6 separate regions of the Homo sapiens genome follow, and all the other regions are linked to region 3. Evidence: fine-mapped expression QTL. A gene starts in region 3. Each other region holds a variant in brackets. All regions are shown on one strand. Distances are from middle to middle. Region 1 overlaps CPQ (carboxypeptidase Q). Region 2 overlaps CPQ (carboxypeptidase Q). Region 3 holds the start of SDC2 (syndecan 2). Region 4 has its middle 96 kb from the start of PTDSS1. Region 5 has its middle 85 kb from the start of PTDSS1. Region 6 overlaps SDC2 (syndecan 2).

What was found. PIP is the estimated chance that this variant, and not a neighbour inherited with it, causes the effect. A credible set is the group of variants that fine-mapping cannot tell apart.
Region 1: its variant is the best candidate, but not a certain one, in a credible set for the expression of SDC2 in whole blood (TOPMed, PIP 0.52).
Region 2: its variant is the best candidate, but not a certain one, in a credible set for the expression of SDC2 in whole blood (TOPMed, PIP 0.53).
Region 4: its variant is the best candidate, but not a certain one, in a credible set for the expression of SDC2 in monocytes (TOPMed, PIP 0.66).
Region 5: its variant is the best candidate, but not a certain one, in a credible set for the expression of SDC2 in whole blood (INTERVAL, PIP 0.76).
Region 6: its variant is the best candidate, but not a certain one, in a credible set for the expression of SDC2 in whole blood (TOPMed, PIP 0.77).

Annotation. Positions count from the first base shown.
Region 1 is chr8:96,810,570-96,814,659 of GRCh38, forward strand. The region is part of intron 2 of CPQ (carboxypeptidase Q); the gene reads left to right. Among named protein-coding and RNA genes, the nearest start is that of CPQ, 170 kb to the left of the region's middle. The variant A/G (reference allele first, on the strand shown) is at 2,453.
Region 2 is chr8:96,833,463-96,837,552 of GRCh38, forward strand. CPQ (carboxypeptidase Q) reads left to right here. Exons shown (of 8, transcript NM_016134.4): 3 at 1,511-1,718. Among named protein-coding and RNA genes, the nearest start is that of CPQ, 190 kb to the left of the region's middle. The variant A/C (reference allele first, on the strand shown) is at 2,299.
Region 3 is chr8:96,491,388-96,495,477 of GRCh38, forward strand. It overlaps SDC2 (syndecan 2), which reads left to right and starts at 2,426. Exons shown (of 5, transcript NM_002998.4): 1 at 2,426-2,944. The coding sequence starts at 2,885.
Region 4 is chr8:96,355,663-96,359,752 of GRCh38, forward strand. No RefSeq gene overlaps it. Among named protein-coding and RNA genes, the nearest start is that of PTDSS1, 96 kb to the left of the region's middle. The variant G/T (reference allele first, on the strand shown) is at 1,524.
Region 5 is chr8:96,345,322-96,349,411 of GRCh38, forward strand. No RefSeq gene overlaps it. Among named protein-coding and RNA genes, the nearest start is that of PTDSS1, 85 kb to the left of the region's middle. The variant G/A (reference allele first, on the strand shown) is at 1,960.
Region 6 is chr8:96,522,565-96,526,654 of GRCh38, forward strand. All of the region lies in intron 1 of SDC2 (syndecan 2), which reads left to right. Among named protein-coding and RNA genes, the nearest start is that of SDC2, 31 kb to the left of the region's middle. The variant G/GGGT (reference allele first, on the strand shown) is at 2,091.

The sequences.
Region 1 (4,090 bases), 320 kb after region 3:
GTAAAGCAGTTCACACACATAAGTTATTATTATGTCATTGGAAGAGTGTTGTTTCTCAGCTCTTGGATATAGCAATGTAAACCAAACCAAACGGATAAAATATATTCACCTTCAACTTTAAGGGTAGTGTCTGCATTGCATTGATATGTTCACCTGACTCCTTATAGCATCTAGTTAGAACTTCCTCTGCTCATAAGAGACAGCTATAGTCTTGTCAGTCCTTTCACTCTGTTATTTCTCATTGAAGCAATTGCTAACCAGTGTATATAATTTTTGAAAACATGGATCTTGTTTTATTTAGCTTTGGGTCCTCTATAGCACTTACTAGAGTTCATTGCATCTAGAAATGTTAAAATGGCAAGCCAAGTAGAGGTTAACATAGACATCTAGAGAAATGTTATCCAGTTTTCCAGAGAAGGCTAAATATCAAAATAGTGTTGTAATTAAATCTTATTTTTAGAATCTGATAAAGTAATTTTGGGTTACCACAGAAATCTTTCAAGTTTAAGCTAATAAAATATTAATGTCCTGGATCTTTGGAAATCTACTAATGTCTTCATTTGGAACTTCATAAGAATCAAGAATTTCACTGCATCTAAGATCCGTTTTCCACAAGTCTTAAAATCTGAACTACAGCACGTTATCTATGTGATATTCTTTCTAGCATTTCATAAACGTATTCTTTTAAAAAAATAATTATTTTATCTTGATTATAGAAGAATGGAGTCTATACCTTATTTGTAGGTGATAGAGCAAGCACCAGGCCCTTGACCCACTCTTACTGCCTCCGTTCATCATTATTTTTAGTTTCTACTAACCTTTATTGTATTATTTGGAACAAAATGGAAGAAAACCTAACTGGGTGTATAAATTTTGATGTACATTAACAATTCATCAAAGTGATATTATAGATAATGTGACTGTTTTCATAAACAAAACAGGACTAAAATAAATGAATATGCAGAAGAAAGTGTGAGAGATACTGAAATATTTTGCTGGTATAGTATATTATGCAGATGTTTGCATTTATGAGGTAGAACTAGAAAACAAAAAAACTCTATGTTATAATCATTTTTAATAAATGAATTTTTATTTCCAGGTAATTTATACCTATATTCAAGTCTTGGTAAGCAATTTAAAATAATTTGCTGACTTGTTGATCTCACCTTTCAAATAATATGCCAAGGGCCAATAACTTCTTGCAACATGTATAGATATTTATCCAAATGTGTTTTTGATAAGGATATGAAAATATTTGGGGAATAAATCCAATACTTATGCTTATTTATGGTACATAAATCGGAGTTTCCCATGAGTGACCGTAAAAATTGGAGGAAGTGGAAAGAAAGAGGAACTGAAATATAAACCAAATGTTTGTTTATGGGCTTTATTTAGAAATCCACATTAGTGATTCTGACATTGGGATATTAATCCAAAATTTCCTTTCTTTGTGGATTATTTTCACACAAAATTGTACATTCTCATGAGGCAATTCTCTTTGGAGTACCCATAGAGAATTATTACATTTTTACCAGATAGGTTCTTTTTAATATTCTAATCTAGCAAATTTGCATTTAAGAAAACTACTTTATTCCAGGATAGCTTTTTTGCACAAGTTATTGTTCTGCCCACCTCCCCTCAAATAAAACCAGCATCATAACTTCTCAGAGCTTTGTCTGCTTTCAAGATTCTTTGGCACCTGCACTGGGTTATATGCCATACCAAAAATGTTTCCCAGCCATTCATGTTTAAATACATTTAAGTTTACATTAATTTTTAAAAGGATTAAAAGCACCTTCAAAAATGAAGCATGTATTCTCTAAGCAGCAAGTATTAATTTATAGGGGCTGTTCATGGAAAAAAATGCTGTTATTGTATGTCTCTTGCCCCATGCATAATAAAGAACTTTTCTTTTTGAAAGTAATTGCTGTAAAATATTCCTTGAGGGATCAAAATATTAGTATGACTGGGAAGTAGGATCTCTGTTCTTAGGCAGATTGTTTTGTTACTTAGTTCCAAATATAAAACTGGACAAAAGTAGGTGAGGTAAGGGAATGATAGAGTGGTTAGAAGAGATCTTTAGATAAGAACATCTTTGGCAACAGGGATAGGGCCTTCACGATCTTTCTTAAAATCCTGGAGCGGCAGGCTTCACGTGGGAGGAAACCAGGGGTTGCCACTAGATCAGCTAAGAGACAAGCAAATAAGAGGCTGGGTGCAGAAAATGCTGAGTCTCTCCGAAGGTTTTTCCCTCAAGCTGAGCTGGTGTCTGGTTTTCTGACCACATGTTGTTTCTTCTCTTTATAAGAGTGAAACAACATTCCTGTTTAAAAAAAAAAAGCCAAAATGTTTGTCATCAAGCCTGACAGTGATATGGGTCCTCACTCAAATACAGTGAGACTTCTTCCTACGATATTGGTCCTGTGGAGTTAGGTCAGAAGGATGTGGTTAT[A/G]AAATAAAGTGATTTCATTTTGTTTATCTCCTACTCAGAAACTTTCAGTGTTCCCCCTTTCCCGCAGTGACAACAGGAAAAGGCCCAAAAGCTTCAGCATGGCAGGTGGAGGCCTTCTAGAACCTGGTTCCAATCTTAGCATAACTTTTACCACTTCCTAACTCAAGCCTCAACTCTAGCTCAACCATTCTTCTATGTAATCAAGAGATATTCTAGGCACTTCTGGTGGGAAGTAGAGAATAAGCCAAGGCTGGGAGGGGTGAGGCCTGGGGAACTTTAACAGAGATTAGTACCCAGATCACTAAATTTGGGGTTGGAGGGTGAGGCAAAGAACTCTGGTACTGTCTACACTGACAGTCTTTCTAAGGTACCTTTCCAAGAAGAGAAGACAGTGCTTGCCTAGTGACTGTGATGGTTCAGGGATAATGTGACAATTCTTGACACCCTGCTGTTACTTTACTTATAGATCAGAACATATTCTGTGAGCTGATATATTAGATTTTAGAAGGAGAAGCCAATCCCAAAAGACAGGTAGGAATTAAATGGGGAACTCAGGATACCCAACTATCAGTTTGGTGGCCAGAGCTGGACTTGCTTTCTTGAGGAAATTATGATGAAAACCAGGGCCTGAGTCTTGCAGTCAAACTGGCCTCTGAAAGAGAGGGCTGGAGGTGGGAATGGGTGGGAAAATGGCAGCTCACTCTGCTGCCTAGGACTCATAACGCCTGGTATATCAGATACCAGAAAACAAGTATTATACTATTCCAGAGATTATCTGTCTTACTAATAGGGCCCTGGGTAGGGCAGAGCCTATAGGCTTTTAATTTTGACACCTGGGCAGGACAAGTTCTTTCAGTGACGGACACTTATCTTCCAGCACTATAATAGGCCTCATTATGGTACATATGATAAATTATCTTGTCCAATTAATTTATGCCACTTTAGACTAAGGACTGTCATATATATACATATATATACACACATATATATACACACATACATATATATGCACATATATATATATAGTTTCTTTAGGTCTTACCAAAGTATTAAATACTTTTTGAACAAATAACGTATTTTGGGGGGCATTATTCTGTCCACTTACCTAAATCAAGGATGATATAAACAATAAATACAATTTCAATAAATTAGATTTTAATTTTTTTTTAATGAACAGAAAGCCAATTGATTGGTTTCCTGAAGCTCTATTGTTTCCTCCTGTCAATGGAATACAAAATCACAGGAACTCTTTATCACTTAGATTGGAGATTACGAATGCCGTGAAGGCAAGTAACTGCCTTTCTTCTTCTAATTATTTTGGAAAGAACATATTTTTCACTAGAAAGACCAGAAGCTGGAAAGCCAAAGGCTTTGGCCACAAAACTGTGAAGGGACTCTGGATGGATGGAGGCTCCACAAGAGCTTCATTCCAAATTAAGATGTTCAGGCTACATTGAAGAAAGCAATCTATTTGCCTTGGAAAAATTTATTAGTGCTAAGAGCTAATATATGAAATATACAATCTGTATCTGGATGTTTGCATTTCTCTAAATCTTGCCCTCAACATATATATCATTTTCAATAAATGGTTTTGAGCCATAATTTTTTCATTCATTCTATATGCCAGTTGGTGTGCAG
Region 2 (4,090 bases), 340 kb after region 3:
GACATCCCTTGAGTGGACTATCGAACCTGTTATTCATTAGGAGCAGCTGCAAACCATCAGCCAAGTTCCCATACTATGCCAACAATAACGCCAGTCAAATTTCAAGGTAACTCCAGGTTTCAGAAATGTATGAATCTCAAAATCTGTCTAGCCAAACTCTTATTTGTATTTTTATGTATGCATATTATATGAAAAAAGCTGGTGGTTTCCTTAGTTTCCATAATTATACATTGCTTCTTTTAGACTATAAATTGAGTTCTCAGTGTTGGTGAAGGCATACCTATAGATCTTAGCCAATCACTTTAAAGTGAAAATAGAAATTCAGTCTGGATCATGGTACCAGGGGTAGCCAGCCCAAAGGGCCCATTATGATGAGGCCTATATTGAAAGCAAAAATTCTTGCATACCTGTAGTGCATTTTAAAAGGATTTTCCAAGTAACAGTTAACATTTGTTAAGCTTTCAGAAAAACTTATTTCTCTAGTTTTTAATATTAAGGAAATATGGAAATATATGTTGATACTTTGTTTTTTACTGACATACTTCATGACTGCATGGCTAAAGCCACAAAACACTAGGCACTTACCACTTTCTTTCTTTTAGATATATTTAGCCACTGCATCTGGCCTTTGTTGCCAAATATTTTTTCCCTTTTACTCTAACTACTCCATCAATTTGGATCTTTAATGGTCAGGCAAATTTTGAATGATTTCTTGGAAGATGTGAAACCCTGTTCCCTAATCAGGAAAATGTGGGCAAGTCTTATGGTATGAGAAAAGAAGGGACATCTCTTCTAACAAAGACAACAGGATTATAGCGCCATTACACAACATCTTCAAAGTTTTTATTTGAAAAATAATGATGTGTTTGGTGATGAACAAGTACCGTAAATGGGAAGCATGGGAAGTTTCCACTCTTTAAGAATGTTTCTATGCAAAGGAGGAAGGAAAGCTTACTTTTTGTGGTTCTTCAGAGAGATTACATTAACCATTTGTTGAAAGTTTCATTTATGAACAACATTGGCTTCTAAGAGTATTCTTCACACACTGGCATCCTTTGTATGATGTTGTTGTAGGTTGTTTAGCAACATATCAAAATAGTTATATAAAAAGATTAATATGTGTTTCATTAATCCTAAGGAGAGCTTTCTGAAATTCATTTTTAAAAATAAATGATTAGCATCATTCTTTGAAATTTGTGACTTCTGAGGGTGGGAAAGAATTAAAAAAGAAGCTATCTTTTCAAGCAGTTTGTGATTTAATACCAGCTGGTCAAGTGAGTTGAAAAACCTTATGATTTTTATGTTATATTATTTTGAATGCCTTTTCACTCTCTTGGGAAGTTGGCTAACCCCACAGTCCTTTTCCCATGGTAAATGGCTCTAAAACTTTGATCTTCTTATACCAGTTTGCCAGATGTAGCAGAAAGAGCATGTATGTGACCTTTCCTGTGCCAATTCAACCCAGCTGATGGGAAACTGTAAGTTAATCTTGCATGACTTTTATTTCTAGGCATTACAGCAGAAGTTCTGGTGGTGACCTCTTTCGATGAACTGCAGAGAAGGGCCTCAGAAGCAAGAGGGAAGATTGTTGTTTATAACCAACCTTACATCAACTACTCAAGGACGGTGCAATACCGAACGCAGGGGGCGGTGGAAGCTGCCAAGGTGGGGGCTTTGGCATCTCTCATTCGATCCGTGGCCTCCTTCTCCATCTACAGGTTTGTCACAATGTTCATTTGAATTCCTTTCAAAAACAAGGGTTTTCCGTGAAGGAAAAGTCCTTATGAAGTAAAAACAAACCATTCAAATGAAAATACTTATTGTTCATGGAGTTTCCCCCCCAAACACACACACCCATTCCACATTTGGTCATTTGTTTGTAATATCTTCTTTGGCTTTTCTGGATTCCAAGCATCACTTGTGCATTCCTTTAAAAAGCTTTAAGGCTTTTCACATCCACAGTGATCCCATTACATTCCTTATATAACTAATATATTATGTATTTTCATTGGAGGAAGAACTGCGTTCATGTCTGCATTTCATCAAAGATTCCTAATGACTTCAGAGGGAGCCAGCCTGTTTTCCATGTTGCTAGAGAAGTGGAGTAAAAAGAGAGTGGGTGACATGATGGGGGCCATCTATGGTATAGTGAAGAGTTAGGGAATTAGAGGAACTTGGATACAGACTTGGCTCTGCTCCCAAACAACTAGGTGGTCTTAGGAATGTTTCTTAAACTTCTCTAGGCCTCATAATTTTCTTCTGTTAACCAGGGGTAAAGAATAATAATAAATGTACAAA[A/C]TAATTTTGAGATTAAATGAGGTCAACTTGAAAAAGATACTTAATTATCTGTAAATGATTATCTACAAAGGTCCATATAAATATTTGGTAATATTGTTTGAGAGTAACATAGGACTTGTCTTTTTCTTTGTAGTTTTGATTGAGGTAATGCCAAATAACTTTATTGGCCCTCAGTCCTAGGATGAAATTCAGTATTACAGTGGATAAAAAGTCTAAAAACTGAGATGTAGATGTTCAGCCTAGTTTAATAGCTATTATGGCAGTGTCATACGTTAAGGATAAAATATTTGAGAAACATGGGGAAAAGAAGCATAACTTTAGTGTGATAGCCTGGCCTAAGATTTTTTTAAAATGCAAAAATAATAGCAGATAGGGTTTATTTGGGTCTCCGGATTGGATTTTTAATATCTATTGGAAAGGGAAGTTTATTTATTCTGCACAATTGCTATTTGGAACTGGAGACACAGCTGCTTGACCTTAATTAGCACCCTACACCCCTGAAAATAAAAATAACTGGGGAACATATGTCAGCAGCTAGGAAATCCAGTCAGAGGAAAGTTGTACAAAAGTGCAGGGAAAAGGAAAGAGACATTTTCCTTATACAGGGATAAGATATCTTCCCAGGGGAGGAGGATGGGGCATGTTAAAACTACATGTTAGAAAGTTATACGACTAGTTACATTGATGTCATAGTGCTAAAAATAATGTTCTTTGCGGGGTCTTTAGAGGTTTCAAGACTAGTGAAATAATGATTGCACCATATTCTTTTGGATGATTAAGCTTCCCAGGAGGGAAGTCCTAAAATGGCTAGCTTACTTCCCATAATACCTCCATCACCCCTTGGAATAACATATTCAGCAAGCTGTGGCCATTCACCATGATTTCACGGTCATGAGACTTAAATTATGGAGCTGGTCTGTTGCTTTGTGAAACTGGGTGATTGCCAGAAACCTTTATTTAAGAACTACTACTCATAAGACTAATAAATTCCCAAATGATTTAATGCACAGTAATTTGTCAGGATTCACTGGCATTTTTTTTTTTTTTTCTGGCATAATGAAGACATCTGGAAACCCAAGCTACAACTTAGGAGTACCAGTAGAATTGTCCAGCAAGGGACTTCAGAATCTGTTGCTAGCCTCTAAGACTGATTATAATGTTTCACTGATTTTATAGCCAATCCATATTTCACTGGACTCTTAACTTGTATAATTCTATTCTTTCAACATTTATAAATACATAATAACATTGGACTTTACATAGCACTTTAGAATCTTTCCCATGTTACTTTATTTGCTCTGACAACAATTCAGTGGCTCATGCAGAAGGGTCATTATTAGCCCTATTTTATTGATAGGGAAATAAAAGTTCAGACAATTAGACATATTAACATGTTTAAGTTTTGCATCCTAAGAAATAAAAACGAAAATAAAATGAGATAAACTATGTTTGTCTACTTCTAGCTTATTGTTTTTAGAACCAAATTTCTTTGATGAGTATTCTATATTCCTACCTCTAATTCCTCACCTTTCATTTGCTCTTCAGACTATTATAGCCTGGCTTTTGCCAATACTGAAACAGGACTTGTTAAGGTCGCAAATAACTGCCTACGTGTCAAATTTAATGGACATTTTTCAGGCCATCATCTTACTTCACTTTTATGAAGCACTTGCCTCCATCAACTGCATTTTCAGTGTTTCTTCTCTTTGGCTTCCATGACTTCTTTCTCATGTTTTCTCTCTCTTTCTTGCTTGCTGTCACTCTCACTCTCTTCTCTATTCCTTCCCTATAT
Region 3 (4,090 bases):
ACACCAAGAGCCTTGGGGTGTGCCTTCAGGGCAGCAAACAGATAATATCCCTTCAACACGTGTATCCACTTATTCATTTTTTATCACTGTCTGCCCAAGCTGAATCAGAGAGCATTCACCACGCTTCTTGTTACATGGGTGCCCCAGTAAACAGCAATAACTGTGAGAACCAGCAAATCAGTGGAGTGCACTTCCTGTTTTACTGGAATTCCAATTTATTTGATGAATACTTAACTGTTGGGGACAATGGAGGTGTGGCCTTGCCTGAAGGCTGGCGAGTAGACGAGGCCTCTTATGAGGACAGAGCTGGTATTTTATGGCTCTTTGCATGTATTTTGCATTGCTGCTTTTCCTTTGGAGGCCTTTTTAAGAAGTCTCCCCATCTCATGAACCTCTTCAACCCACAGACTCCATCTTAAAAATAAGGGCACTAGGCTGGTGGCTCACGTGTCTAATCCCAGGACTTTGGGAGGCTGAGGCAGGCAGATCACTTGAGCCCAAGAGTTTGAGACCAGCCTGGGCAACAATGGAAAACCCTGTCTCTATAAAAAACACAAAAATTAGCTGGTGTGGTGGCCTGTGCCTGTAGTCCCAGCTACTTGGTAAGCTGAGGTGGGAGGACTGCTTGAGCCTGAGAGGTAGAGGCTACAGTGCAGGCCACTGCACTCCAGCCTGGGCAAGAATGAGACCCTGTCTCAAAAAAAAAAAAAAAAAAAAAAAAGGCTGTGGTTCATTCTTTCAAAAGCTAAGTGGAGCCCACATTGGCACAGATGCCAGCTACAGTGTCTGTGGAATCAGAAGCATCATCTGATGTTACAACTTCTGGCCTATTGCTCTTTTTCTTCTTTCTCCTTTGCCTACTCTTCTATTTCTCCATATTACCTTTTTGTTGGCCAATGCCTTAGACTTGCTCATGAGCATTTGTAGGTTTGGTAGCTGGCACACAAAACCAAAGGAATAAGTGTCTCCAAGTTTGAGTTGTAATTCTCCAGTTAAATTTCTTTCTTTGAGATTTATTACAGTAATAGGTTACTAAGACATTTAATTCTCACTGAGGGTATGACTGTATTTTATTCTAATACTGAGTTGAAAAATTACCATGGCCTCATATCTATATATCTACATTGGTGTATTTTAAAGGCTCACAACTCTTATACGGTATAAATTGAGCTTTAGAGCAAAATTTATTCAAGATAATATTTATCATGTGTCTTTATGTACCAGGAATGAGAATACAATGGTGAACAGACAGAAAAGTCTCTGGTTTCCTGTAGTGGGCATTCCAGGAGCAGAATGGCGTCATAATTCATTTACTCTATAAGTCAGAGAGAAAAATGATGGCACGAACTGCAAGGGATTTGTGTGTAAAATTTGTGACAGTAAGAAAAAGAAACTGGAAGGGAATACGCATTTGCCATGTTCTATAATATGCCACAGACATTGTAACAAAATATTTCATGTCAGCTACTTCCATTTAGGAAATACATGTTCATTATTTTCTTCAAACTAAGAATTACTTTATCCCTCTTTTCTTTGAAGTTATCTTAAATCTGTTATTATTCAGGGTCTCTATCCAACTTCTCATCAAATTACCCTATTTGTAGCTTCCAAACGTTAACACCTATCTGCTAAAATGGAGCCTATAAAAAGCCTTAGTGGCATAAACTGTGTGTGAGGGAGAAATGGTATTTAAGCCCTTAATGAAGTTAGGAGCTTTCAAACTGTTGCACTTTGGGTTTACAGGATCCTTCCTCCATGTCCCTTTTTTGGGGGTGCGGAAGGATTTGGGAGAATGGGAAACACTCTCACTATATATTTATTACATTAATTATCTTCTCTTTTAAAATGCAATTTTCATGAACTGGCGATTTATGAACACTTCACATTGCTTGAAAGCATCTTACACTTTTTTTTTCCCTCAACTCACAAAGCAGTTTCTTTCTACTGGTCGAATTCTCAAGGCAGAAAAGCTACATACGTCTCTCGTTTCTTCACTAATTGTTCTCTAGAAAAGGGAAAGTGAAGAAGGGAAAGAGAAAAGACAACGGGGAAGAAAAGAGCATAGAGGAGAGAGGAAAAGTGGGGAGAGAAAGGAAGAAAAGGACTGAGAAAACGCAGGAGCCCTGGCTTGCCGGTGAGCAGAGCCGGCGCAGCCACAGCGCGGAGCCGCGGCGCCCACTGGTCCTCGGAGCTGCCAATCGGCGTGTAATCCTGTAGGAATTTCTCCCGGGTTTATCTGGGAGTCACACTGCCGCCTCCTCTCCCCAGTCGCCCAGGGGAGCCCGGAGAAGCAGGCTCAGGAGGGAGGGAGCCAGAGGAAAAGAAGAGGAGGAGAAGGAGGAGGACCCGGGGAGGGAGGCGCGGCGCGGGAGGAGGAGGGGCGCAGCCGCGGAGCCAGTGGCCCCGCTTGGACGCGCTGCTCTCCAGATACCCCCGGAGCTCCAGCCGCGCGGATCGCGCGCTCCCGCCGCTCTGCCCCTAAACTTCTGCCGTAGCTCCCTTTCAAGCCAGCGAATTTATTCCTTAAAACCAGAAACTGAACCTCGGCACGGGAAAGGAGTCCGCGGAGGAGCAAAACCACAGCAGAGCAAGAAGAGCTTCAGAGAGCAGCCTTCCCGGAGCACCAACTCCGTGTCGGGAGTGCAGAAACCAACAAGTGAGAGGGCGCCGCGTTCCCGGGGCGCAGCTGCGGGCGGCGGGAGCAGGCGCAGGAGGAGGAAGCGAGCGCCCCCGAGCCCCGAGCCCGAGTCCCCGAGCCTGAGCCGCAATCGCTGCGGTACTCTGCTCCGGATTCGTGTGCGCGGGCTGCGCCGAGCGCTGGGCAGGAGGCTTCGTTTTGCCCTGGTTGCAAGCAGCGGCTGGGAGCAGCCGGTCCCTGGGGAATATGCGGCGCGCGTGGATCCTGCTCACCTTGGGCTTGGTGGCCTGCGTGTCGGCGGAGTCGGTGAGTGGGCCAGGCGGAGGATGCGCGCGCCGTTTAGGGTGTTTGAAGCTACGAGAGGAGCCCGCAGGGAATAGGGGAGCGCCACCTGGGGAACCCCCAGTCCCCAAGTATACACCGGAGATCCGCTGGGACAAATGCGCTCGTCCGGTCACCCTTTCCCCCTCTTCCCTTCCTCAGAAAAGCGCTGCTCGCTGGCGTTACCCCGCGGTCCGCGGGAATGGGGGCACCGAGAATTGCGGTTTGGTCTAGCCGCAGAGGCCCCTGAAGTCACTCCCAACTTCTTCGCCCTCGGCGGGTCTTGCTGCGTGGTCTGGGAAGGACGGAGGGGAAAGGGTGGCAGGAGGGGGGAGCCTGGGTCGGGCCCGCGAGGGAACGGCTCCACTCCGCGCGCTCCTCGAGACCAGGGATGACCTGGAAACTTCGGGGTCCCTTCCTCCGCACACCATCCCCCCCGCGCCAGCTTTCCTGTTTGACTGCATGCAAGTTCTGGGGAGATGGGGGCCAGATTTAAGAGACCCGCGAGTGTCCAGAGAGAAAAGTTTGCAAAAGTTCTTTTGTTTGATGCTCCCTGCGGCTAGGGCGAGGTAACCGACACTACGTGGAATCGCAGTAGGCGATCCCTCAAGGGGATACTGGGGGAGGCACGGAACGCGTCCGAAAATGCTGGGACGCCGGCCACTGGATTCCCAGTCCTGCGGCGACCCCCTCCTCGTTGAGGGGTGGAGGTTGCACCGCGGGGCGTCAGGGACGGGAGGACATTTTCATAGGAGTTACACGGGAGTGCCGCAAGCAGGGCGAGGCGGGGTACGTGTGACACGGCGCTCGGCTTCGGGTCGCCTGGCCGCTGGGGGACAGAGGCTTCCCTCCCGCCACGCTCGCCCTCTCTGGCCCTGGCGGGGCGCTTCTGGGGCCGGGAGGAGTCTCGTCTCCGGCGGAGCGCCTGCCGGCACCCAGCTTCCCTCCCCCGCCCTGGCGGTGGGAACTTGATTTCTCCTTTTGGTCGCGCTTCGGGGGCTGGAGCTTGTTTCCCCACGTCGCCCAATGAGCGCCCTCTAAAGGGAACTGCCTCCTTGGCCTCCTCTCGTCCGCAGCTGCCTCCACCTGGGCGCCAGGAGCTCTGTCGGGCCAGGTGGAAGCTTGAGCACC
Region 4 (4,090 bases), 140 kb before region 3:
TCAGGGCGGGCGCACTGGCTCACGCCTGTAACCACAGAGCTTTGGGAGGTGGAGGCAGGAGGATCACTTGAAGCCCAAGGAGTCTGAGACCAGCCTGGGTAATATAGCAAGACCTCATCGCTACAGAAAAAAAAATTAGCCGGGCATGGTGGCTCATGCCTAATAGTCCCAGCTACCTGGGGAGGCTGCGGTGGGAAGATGGCTTGAGCCCAGGAGTTCAAGGCTACAGTGAGCTGTGATCATACCACTCCACTCCAGCCTGGGTGACAGGGCGAGACCCTGTCTCTAAAAAAAGGAAAAGAAAAAAAGAAACCCATATTTCAGTCCGTGACAGACCGCATATACAATGGTGGTCCCATAAGATTATAATGGAGCTGCCCTATACAGATGTACCATTAAAACATTTTTATCCCATATTTTTACTGCACCTTTTCTATGTGTAGGTGTGCTTAGATACACAAACACTTACCATTGTGTTGTAGTTGTCTATAGCATTCAGTATGATAACATGCTGTACAGGCTTTTAGCGTAGGAGCCATAGGCTATTCCACATGGCCTGGGTGTGTAGTAGGCTATACCACCCAAGTTTGTATACATTCACTCTATGATGTTTCGCACAATGGCAAAATCGCCTAAAGACACATTTCTCAGAACATATCCCATCATTCAGCAGCTCATGACTGTGCAGGGCTAGGTCAATACAGGATAGCTCTTGCTGATCCTAGCCTGAGTTTGTCCACTAGGCTATGCTGCCTCTCACTCAGATGAAAGGGAAGAGCTCTTGGTGGAGACTTCTGGAGGACTGTAAAGGAACATTGGGCCTGACTGCAAAGAACTGAATGCTGACCTCATGCTTCCCAGTTTTCATGGGCTGTGATGAACAGGATGGAGTGGCGGTGGCAGACTAGAGTGAGGAAGAGCAATGAGGGGCCACTGAGAAACCTGCAGATCCAAGGGAGAGGCAGGGAAGCTGGAAGCAGGGGAAATGGGAGGCCATGAGCAAAGAGAGAAGAGGCTTTGGTGATTCTGCCTTATGTAAGGGTCGGGGTGGGGTTGGAGAAAACACTGGTGACAGTGAAACTAAGATGTCAAGGAAAGGCATGGGTTTACAGGGAAAAGGGCTGAGTCTGTTGTATTTGAAGTTCTGGAGAAACTTCAGCATCTAGCCTTCTGGTCTGTGCTGGAGAGTGGTTACTGCTGGACCAGAGGACTCCCCTCACGTTGAGTTACTGAAAGCCATGGTGGGAACCGCGGATGGATGAGACCACCGGGCAGAAAAGCCGAGCAGCTCCTGAACAGTGAACCTTTGGGATCACCACACTGTGTTTCTCACAATTCAGTATCGCTGCTTCTCAGTGGAGGCTCTGCTGCCTCCATGGGAGAGCACTGGAAAATAGAGGGGATGCTTTTGATTGTCCCAGTGGTTGAAGGATGGTATAGGCCTTCGATAGATATACAGTGACACAGGGAAACAAGATGTTCTGCAATGCACAGGGCAGCTCTGCAAAGTGAAAAATTTCTCT[G/T]GGGTCCTCTTGATTTGTAAATATCTCATTGGGCTTTCATTTAGGTGAAAAATCTATTTTGAAGTCTCTTAGCCCAGAACCTAATTACAGTTTCCATATATACCTATATATTTTACTTCATTTAAATTTACATGCATTTTTGTAAGAATGTAACCATATAAATAGAGAGAAAATTGTACTTTGTTTTGTTGGAATTTTACTGAGCTGTTTCATTTCAGGACATCATGTTTCTGCTGGCAACATCACTCCTAAAATTTGAGTTACTACTCTGCATTGATACCTATCCCATTAGTGGTGATTTTACATATTCATTGAAGCATCTGATTATTTTGTATTAAGTGGTCATGTCTAACAGTAAATTAAAATATATTTTTTCTCTATAGATTCCTTTCATTTATTCTATATACTTACAGTTAGGTTATTATATTGTTCTTTTTTAAAAATTATGTGTGCATATGAGTTATTTTATCTATACAGTTTATTTCAGGAGAGTGAAGAGAGTGTTACAAATTCATTGTGGTAAGGAGGGGTTGGAACTGATGAGGTTGAGAACCGCTAGTTCTAAACTAGCACTATCCAGTAGAAATATAATAGGAACCACAAATACATTTTACATTTTCTAATAGTCACCCTAAAAAAAAAAGGATGGAATATTACTCAGCCTTAAAAAGAAAGTAAATCCTATCACATGATATGACATGGCTGAAGCTTGCGGACATTATGGTAAGTGAAAGAAGTCAGTCACAAAAAGACAAATACTGTATGATTCCACTTATATGAGGTATCTAAAATATCTAAATTCCTAGAAACAAGAAGTGGAATGTTGGTTGCCAGAGCTGAAGAGAGAGGCATATGGGGAGTTTTTTAATGGGTATAGAGTTTCAGAGTTGCAGGATGAAGAAGTTCTGGAGATCTGTTTCACCACAATGTGAACATATTTAACACTACTGAACTGTACACTTAAAAGTGGTTAAGAGGGTAAATTTTATGTTAGTGTTTTTTACTATAATAAGAAAAGAAGAGCGGGCAATACTAATTTTCATAACATGTATTTATTTAACTCAATATATTCAAAATACTATCATTTCAATATGTAATCAATATAAAAATTATCAATGAGATATTTTATATTCTCTTTCTTGCACAAAGTCTGAATTCTATGTCCATTTTACACCTACAGCACATATCAACCAAGACTGGCTGCATTTCCAGTGCTCAAATGCCATACATGGCTAGTAGTTAACGGCAAATGCTAACTACACTTGTTGAGCAGACCTTCAGCACCAGGCACTGCTGTGGGTCCTTTACATAGAATTACTCTTCCCATCCTTGGCCCTATGAGATAGGCACCAGGAAATTGAAGCACAGAGACCTTGAATAGCACACTTAATGTCAAGAGAAATTGTGGCCAAGTGGAGAGCTGAGCCTAGGCATTCTGGCTCCAGAGCCCGTGCCTTAATCACTGTGCATAGGCACCCTTGTGGGGTTTTTCTCCTGGACTCCTGTTCTGGCCAAGTGGGAGTCCACCCAGCCTCTTTTCCCAGTGGGATACTAGGATTGTGCTTCCCTGGGCTTGCTCTTCCATGGGCTCACATATTCCATGGAAGCACACTCCTAGCATCTCCCTGGGAAACTGAACCCTGGCTGCACAGGCTTTAGGGAGTCAAAATCTGGCTGGCCCCCAGGGAGCCAGTTAGGCTTGTCTCTCCCTGCTTTCCTGCTAAGCATAGCAGACGCTGGCCAGCCCGTCTGCACGGAAGAAAGAAGCCTGGGTTTGCTTCACAACCGCCTTCAATGTTCTCTATTCTCTGCATTCCCATTAGGAGAGGTAGTGGGCCTGGTGAATCAAGACAAAACACACAGATGTGGCAGAAAGACGGTCCCAACATGCACATCTAATAACGACTTGCCACCAGGACCTTGCTGGTGAATCACTTGCATTTCCAATAACTTTTTCTCCTGAGTTTCCCTTAATAAAGACAGATTTCTTCATTTCCTGGGGCTCCCTCAAGATTATACTGACAACTTCTCCATTAATTATCAAATTATGCCCCATCACAAAATGATTACATCTGCTTCCTACCTAAACACTTCCCCTCATTTGTGAAAAGTCTCATTTAAACTAATATGCTTTTAACTTGCTCAATTTCAACACCTCCATAGAGGCTACTAATGAGCTGATTCCTTGCCCAGCTGGTCCCTTGGCCCTTCCTTGTGTTCTCCGTTCCAAGACCAATTTAGATCTTGCAGTATGGGAAAGGGGAGGACTCACTCTTTGAGTTGGATGCTTGGTGGGAGCCTTCTTGAATGACGTGTATACTTAAACACAGGACCTTGAGTCTGAGCCCCCCACAAAAGTGAGACTCCACTTGCTGCTTCCAGAAATGTGAAAATTGCTTTAGAGTGGGGCCACAGGAGCAAAAGAGCCTCCCAGTTTCAATGGGGTAGCTTAATGACTCAGGTAATTAGACCCAGATTCCCTTTACAGGGGCCTCTTAATTATTATTTAATAAAGAGATGATTCCAGGCTATGACCCGCAAGGCTGGCGGCATTATAACTATGAAGC
Region 5 (4,090 bases), 150 kb before region 3:
CCGCCCCTCTGGTTTTCAGATGGGACTGCAATGTTTGTCGGGGGTTTTCCGGAGCTTTGCTGAGCCCCAGGGTCTAGGCTGCCAGGGGCTGCATCTGCTCTGCATCTAGGGAAGATGTTCTTCCTTCTGTGTCTTCTGAGGCTTAGTTACTGCTCTGATCAAAAAAGAGTCTAAAGAAAAGGCACTTCCATTGGCGGTTCTCCCCAAACTGAACTAATTATCTTTCATCCTCCTAACTCTATCCTGTCATGGTGAGTTTAGGTTGGGGAGCTATTAAATGATCATCCCTCCTGCATCCGCTTACTGCAAGCTTTCCAGACAGGCAATGATGGACCACTGAGAACATTTTATCCCTGAACAAAACACATTAGTGTTTTTTGAAAATGTGTTCTCTCAAGAAAGCCAGCCCCATGTGCAACAACCTCCATTTCCAAGCAAGTAACTGTGTTAATCTGACTTCTCCCTAGTGTTAACTGAGCCAAACGTGAATCACTCACTTGGCCACAGGGAGAGGTGGACTCGTCGTTCTGTAAGATTACAATCCCATAATCTGCCTCCTGATCTCTTCTGCTGATGGAAGCCAGAGTCTGGGCTCCATTAAAAGATGACTGGGGAAATAAAACAGAATAGCACATTTTCACCTTCTTTCCGATCCAAGGAGAGTTGCTCCCAGATGCTGTATCTGCAGTCCAGCTTCTGACTTGCAAACAGTTCAAGAAGGAGGCTGTGGCCTGGATGGCAGAACACCCTGTATGAGATAGCTGTCACATGCAAACACGTGCACATGCAGACAGGGGAGACAAGGAGCAACGAAGAAGTTTGAAGGAGGGGGCTCAGGGTCAAGCCTTGGTTGAATCCCTTACATTGCAAAGGTTAAGACACTGAGGCCCAGAGTAGTGCAATGACTTGGCCAGGGCCACAGAGCTGGTGATAGCAGAGCCAGGGTTCAGGCCACCTTCAGATTCCTCCTCCTAGCTTCTTGCCCTTATACACCATGTCCACCCAAGAGCCACTAAATATGAACCACACATTGCTTGTGCAGCCTTGGGGCTTCATACACTTAGGGAATGTGCCCTTTCTACCAAACTTCTTTTTCTCTTCCCTGACACCACATTTCTCATCTTCAGAAGCCTGCTCCACTCTCTGAAGCCTTCTGTCACTGACTAACAGTTCAGAACTTTAAAGGGCATGTATACACAAAAACAGAATGCACCCAGCCAAGGATGCTTATCAAGAGTGGCAAAAAAAACCCGCAAAAGGAGAGTATCAGGAGTGGCCAACCCTGGGGTGATTTGAGGTGTTTAGAAAAAGCAAACGACTATTATTTAAAAGGAAATGGGCACAGCTTACAAACTCCACATATAGAACAAGAGTAGGAGACAAAAGAATGGGTGTTCACTCCTTGGGAATAGAGTTCAATCTGACTGTTTCTCTCTCACTGCTGCAGTTCCTTCTGTGATTTCTCTTTTCTCTTTATCAGGGCTCATAAGCCATGCTCTGGCCCTCCCTCATGTCCCTGGTCCCTTTCTCCCCTCATCTCTGTCCCCGGCCATTCTGGACTGTTTCCATTGCTCGAATATTCATCAGGGTCTTTTTCGTCACACCCTTCCCCCTACCCCGCCACTAGGAAGCTCATCTTCACCCTTTCATTCTCAATCAGAACAGTTCTGTAGCAAGACATGCAGGCTAGCTCGTTACCCCCATGGCATCTACCTCCTTTTGTGAGTAAAGTGAAAATCTGAGGGAGCACGAGTCAGGAATCTGCCTTGACCATGAACCTGAGTTGTTTAGATTTCGTTTATATGTTCTCCATCAAGAGAATCCCATTCAAACTAGAAAAGGCGGTGCACACATGGATAGAAGAGAACTGAAGCCCACAGTGGCAGCTGACTGTGTCAGGTGCAGTAAATATCATGCTTCTGTTGCAGTAAATATCATGGTGCTGAAGTTCATAGTTGT[G/A]GTGGGTTAAACCCCGAGAAACAAGAATGTATTGTATCAGGAGAGAGAAGAGAAAAAATAGATTTTGAAAACTGCAGGTCAACAAGCGTGGTCTTAATCCACAGTAAAATTCTAGAGCAGATTATTAAAGGGTGGTCTGTGACCATCTTTATAGAAGCAAGCATTGATCACTGGGCATTAGCAGAGGTTCACTAAGAACAAGCCATGCAGAGCTAATGTTGTATTGCTTTTACACGTAGTTATCAGATTGGTAGATCAAGGGAATACTACAAATGAGCAAAGAGCAGAGTACAAATCCCACCTAAGCAAAAATAAAATAAAATAAAGGACCTACCTCAACTTTGAGAAACACAGTGTGCTACTGTAGTTTCTCTTGAAGATTCACAGGACACATTAGCACATTAAAGGTTCTGAGAAGTCCTGCACCAAAAAACCTATTTAATACCATCCCACTGATCAAGCATTCTACAGAACACACTCGGAAAAAAAAGAGGATGTTTTGGATGAATTCCAGCAGGTGTTTTGCAAAGCTTTTTATTACATAAACTGTGAGGAGGTAGAGAAATGAAATGTGGAGTTAAAAATAACTCACTGGAATCACAGCTGGGTAGACAACTGTACTGAAAGAGCATTAATTAATCGATGAATTGCCACCCTGTTGGAGGTGTCCAGTGGATGTCTCAAGGCTCTGCTCTTGGTCCTGGCATGTTCAACATTCTTATCAGTGACTTGTATCACAACATTGAAGACTTACTTTTAAAATGTTCAGATAGCCTAAAGCCAGAGAAGCAGCGAATATGCTGTTTAACAAATTGAAATACTCTCTCAAAACCAATAAATGAATCCAACAGGATCCCATTGAGACTTATTAGAAGCAATGGTGTAAGTAAGGGATGGATGAAATGTGACTTGAAACCAGCTCATATGAAAAAGACCCAGGTTGCAGCTACATCAAGATCAGCCCAAGCCAAATGTGTGACAGGTCTACTATGCTTCTTAAGTCAGCGAAGCCATCCTGGGCATGCAAATGGCGTGCAGGGCAAGCAAGCTAGGCAGGATGGTCTGGCCACACTGGGTATTGAATTCTGGTCTTATGGTGCATTTCAAGAGGGACATTGACAAACTGGAGCCTGTTCAGAGAATAACCAACATCAGGAGAGGTCTAGAGAACTTGTATGCTGAGAAGGAAAGTCTGTAGAAACCAGGGATATTTAGATGGTCTATAAGAGAAGATGAGGAGCATGGTGATGACAACTGGCTTTGAGAGGCAGTGTAGTGTAGTAGAAAAGAGGTGAGTTTGTGTTCAAATCTCTGCTCCAGTACTTCCAACTGTGTAACTTAGACAAGTTTCTTAATATCTCTAATGACTCTTAATGTCTCTAATGACTCTTCAGAGTCCTTAGATGAGAAACCATCATCCCTATTGAGTGGCACTATTGGAATGTGTTTGGAGCAGAGTAAGTGGTCAACACATGCTTGTCTTCCCTTTATCCATGTGAAGAATGGCAGTCACGGCAATGAGAAGGGTGACTATTTGCTATAGATTTGTGGGGAAAATTGGGACCAATAGGAGAATTCCCCAAAGGGAGACAGATTTGGTGATGAAAGGCAGGAACTTTATAATAACCAAAAACCTGGAAATCAAAAGAACTGGCTCACTGCCTTTAAGTTGACACTGGAACTTCCACAGATACTTGTAGAAGAGATCTCTGTTTGGGGTGAGAGGTGGGATTAGATGACCCCCCAGATCCCTTTCAACTCTAAAATCCTGTGATTCAAAGATACAGCCAGACTATTTATTGTTCTCTTCTGTATGTAGTTAACTCATATATTCACCCTCCCCATTCATGTATAGTACAGTGATACTTATATGTACTTACTTAAAGTTATTCCTTGGCCATTCCCCATGTATGGGTTTTTCTCTCTCCTCTATTAGTGTTCACATTACAGCCTCGTTCAGGAGCTTGTCCAAAGTGGGCACTTAATAAATGTTAATAGACTAATAAGAGAGGTCTGCGTAGAGTGATGACTGTGAGTCATTACTCATAATGACTCATACAGGCATATATTTGAACTCATACTGTATGACTCCTTTGGACTCATACAGGCATGTATTCAAATCTTGGCTCTA
Region 6 (4,090 bases), 31 kb after region 3:
CTTTCTCAAAGCTGTCTCTGTACTGTGCTGATATCAGAGGAGTCAACTAAAAGTGATTTTCTCTGTAGACAGTTATTCTAGTTTATGGGATGTATTATAAAACTATTGGGGAAAATCACTGAACTACTAAGGTAAGGGAAATAGCTTAAGGATCTATGATCCATATTTGAAATAGTCATTAAGTTATATAATTGGATTTTTAGAGAACAAGATAGAGCAGTTTCAGGATGTAAGGTGTAAAATAAATCTGGTCCATGAACTGCTTCCAAATTGTCACCCTGACCAGAAGAAGTAACATTCCTCAGGTTGTGGCTTTATCTAGAAAGGGGAAATGGCTATTTCTGGATTAGCTTTATACAAATGAGTGTATTTCCCACCTGCTGCTTTTGCCTAGGGTTGGAATTTTTCCTTTTCACTGCTTGTTACTTGGCGTTTGGATGGAAACGTATCCTCCCTTTCAGAGCCAGAAGATTCTGTGTGAGTCATCAAGAAAAATTTCTCCGAGGAGTTATTAATTCAGTTAGTTGCTCCATAGTAAATGGTTCATGCAACAGTGATAAACCTCTGAATTTGAAATCTTTCTTTAAAATCTTTTTTCCTTCAAAAAATGCATACAGTGGATTGCTGAGCATCTAAAATCCCGCACTGTTCAGCACTGTCATTCTTGGTAATTGCTTTTTAGAGGATTTGGTGGTGTTTTGCTGCTTAAGCTAAACCACGAAGTTAAACTTTTGTACTGTGGAAGTAGTTCATGAATCCTTTAGATTTCTTGGAAGAGGAAAGATGAGTGTGTGGTGAATATATATGAATATCGCATATTTGAATGTGTTACTTACTAGTTTTGGTTGAGCATTAAGGTTGCCCCTAATGGATGGGATCTCTGCCAGGGGTAACTCTTGGAGTCCTAGGTGCTATTGGGGAGGAACCTTTCATTCTCGGCATTCTGGGGGAGATTTACATCTGTAAGCCGGATAAAAATATGTGGAAAGGTGATTAGTTTAATTGGCCCACTATTATAATTATTCAGTAGGAGGTGGCTGTGGGACTGCTATTATAGCCCAAAATGCCTGGTAGGAAGAGGCGGAGACTCATTGAAAACAGCAGCAAGGTTATAAAACGTTGGTTTAAACGTGCATTTAATAACAGATTACCCTGGTGCTTTAAAGACAGAGGAATGCTTAAGTATTTGGTACAAGAATCCATCCAAAAAAAGACGCGGATTTTTTTTCAAAGATAATTGTGGGAAATTCTGCTAATGATTTCTTTTCCCTTAAAATATCATACAGGGGAGTAGGATTTAGGTAGGTGTAAAGTTGCTCAACGTGTTGGTAACTTTAAGATTATTTCTTCTCTGGTTGTTGCCACAGACACTCAGGGTGGCCACAATGGTGGTGTTGTTTTAGGCTTCTTTCAAAAAAGAAGTCCAGTCCAGGATAATGTTGTAAAGTGGAGTATTTTTCTTTCACATCAAAGGGCAAGGAATGTTTTACAGACAGTGAGCTAAGAAGTAGGGCACAGATATTTCAGTACTTGCGTTGGGAAACTATGTGTGGAATGTCATAGTTCATATACCAGAGACCCCGAAGTGAATCCAGGTGCCTGCACGGTGCTGACTTTTCCTGGAGTGAGATGACTGTAGGCAGAAATTGCAGCCAGATGAACCTAAAATAAAATTGATGGCTTTATTGGACATTCTTTTCATGAGATTTAACTTCTTAACGTGCACATACATCACTCTGGGGATGTCATTATCATGGCTGACCTTTCGTTTGGGGGAGCTGCTGCTCGCTGTCTGTGCAGCTCCGATCAGCTTGGCTTTGATTACCACCCACATCTGTTGAGCATGTGAGAGAGAGATTTTGAAAAATCTCAAGCACACTGACAACTGGCTACAAAGATTTAATTAAGACCGGTCAGAACTAATTTCAGTTATATATTCCAGTTTAGGGTATCAACTCCTCTGGTTTCAGAAGGGGGAGTTATGACTTCCTAAAAGTTGTTGTTGAAGGCAGCATGAGGAAATCTCCTTGGGCAAGCAGTGGGTTTCTTTGTCCTAGCTCCCCCACTGCTACCTGGGGTTAATGATTGCA[G/GGGT]GGTGGCTGGCGTAATGAACCAGTGCCGGAAAGCTTATTATCAACATGCTGAAGTCATATTTAGAAATCATTCCTCCTCCTTTTTTCTCCTTTCCAATACAAGTCAGAGCACTGCTGTGGTTCCACCTAATAAATACTGCAGGCTTCATTGGGCTGTTCAATGAGACCTAATATAGTATCATTTGTGCACTTTAGTGGGTGGTTCCTATTTATATTTTTGTGTGGTTTACTGCTCAATCTTGGGAAGATGTGGGGTTTGAGGGTTTATCAGTTGCAGTTTTTTGTGGAACCAGTTTGAGTGAGACAAGACTTTGGCCATTATTTGTCGGGTTACATGGATCTCCATATGAGCTATGAAGATACTGGAATAATTGGGTCACAATAATGTAAAATCGTAGTCTGTACTTTCAGCTCATTCCAGAGGAATGATTGGAAGCCCTGCTCTCCCTCTCTTCTGCATGCAAACCTCAGGTGTGATTTCGGCCTGTGCCCAAGTGTTCTTGAAATGTTCAAGGCTGTCCGTTCCCACTCTGTGATGAGGCTTCCGGTTGATGTGTGACATCACTTAGGGCAGGAACTGGCACTGTCTTGATCCTGGCTGTCCTAGAGAAGCTTCTGTGCTTGGCCTTGGGAAGCCACCCCATTTGGTGCTGCTGTAGTCTCCTTTCTGCTCCTCTTTTAACAGCTGCCTCCCACCTGTGCTCACTTCCACCTGCAGGCCTTGTTTTCCAGTGGCACTGGAGTGCCATGCTGAGGTCACTGGACAAGTTCCTTATCAGAGCCCCCTTCCCATTAGAGTGAGGCTGCACCCCATCCTGCCTGGGCTTACTTTGTGCGTTGCTTGGGGGCATGGAGAAGGTTCTTGCCCTTGCTGCTTTATATGAGGTCCAATTCCTCCAGTGTTTGCCATCTCCTTTAGAGCTCTCTGGTGACAAAACCTTCTTCAGCTTGTCTACCCTCCAGGCTGGTGAGTTGAACTCAGACTGGTGCTCGGAAAGGTTAAAGGACTTGTCCAAGATGTTACCTTACTGGCAAACTGCATTCCCAAGTCTTTATTGATCTCCGAGGGCATCTCTTAATTTGTTGGAGTTTTCTTTTCCTGGAAAAAATACTGCTTGGGTCTCAGTTTCTCCACATATAAAATCAGAATAAGACCATAAATTCATGTAGTTGAAAGGGGCGGTTTCAGGAAGAAAACTAAGATAATGAAAGCCTCCGGAAAAGGGTCTGGGACGACATTATTTACAGAGTACTTTCCACACATTGTCAGGGTGGGGCCGCACAGGAACCTTGTGGGGTAGGCATCATTGACCTGTTTCAAAAATGAACAAAGTCAGTCCCAGAGACCTTGAATGGAGGCTTATCAAAGCTAAGCATACGGCTTCAAGTTTAACCGTCAAATGGTAGAGTTAGTCATGGCTTTTGGATGTGCGGGCCAGGCATGGTGCAGGGCCAGGTATGTTTTAGCCTTGTGGTTCTTTTCCTGATATTTCGGTCCTGTGGGCCTCCCCAAAGTGGCTTTGCACCTATGTTTGTTATGGGCATAAGGAAGTTAGAATTCTATGAATATGTACTGATTTTTTGTGATTCTGAATTTAAATAGGCCTCTATAAAGCTAATACTTGAAGTTTTGTTGTAATGAAGCATCACAAATACTTTTACATAGGAAAAAGGACCAAGCTGATCTCCTTAAAGCGGTTGCAAAAACCACCCAGTTGTTATACGATTGTTTGTTTCATGTTTCTTGTTATGTGGCATATTTCCAGTAAGTGGAGGGACCAAATATTTTATAGTTACAGAAACTTCTTCTCTCCCTCCTTGAAGTTTAAAAAAGTGGATCAAATGTCTGCCTATTTTCAAGGAGGCAGGGAGACAGAAGATCTTTTCCAGATTGCAGGAAGGCCAACGCAGGTTGCACCCAGAGAACTATGGAAACCACTGTTGAGGAGGAAGGAATTGGGTGAAAATTAAAGAATCAAGCTAGTAAAAGTGAAAAGAGG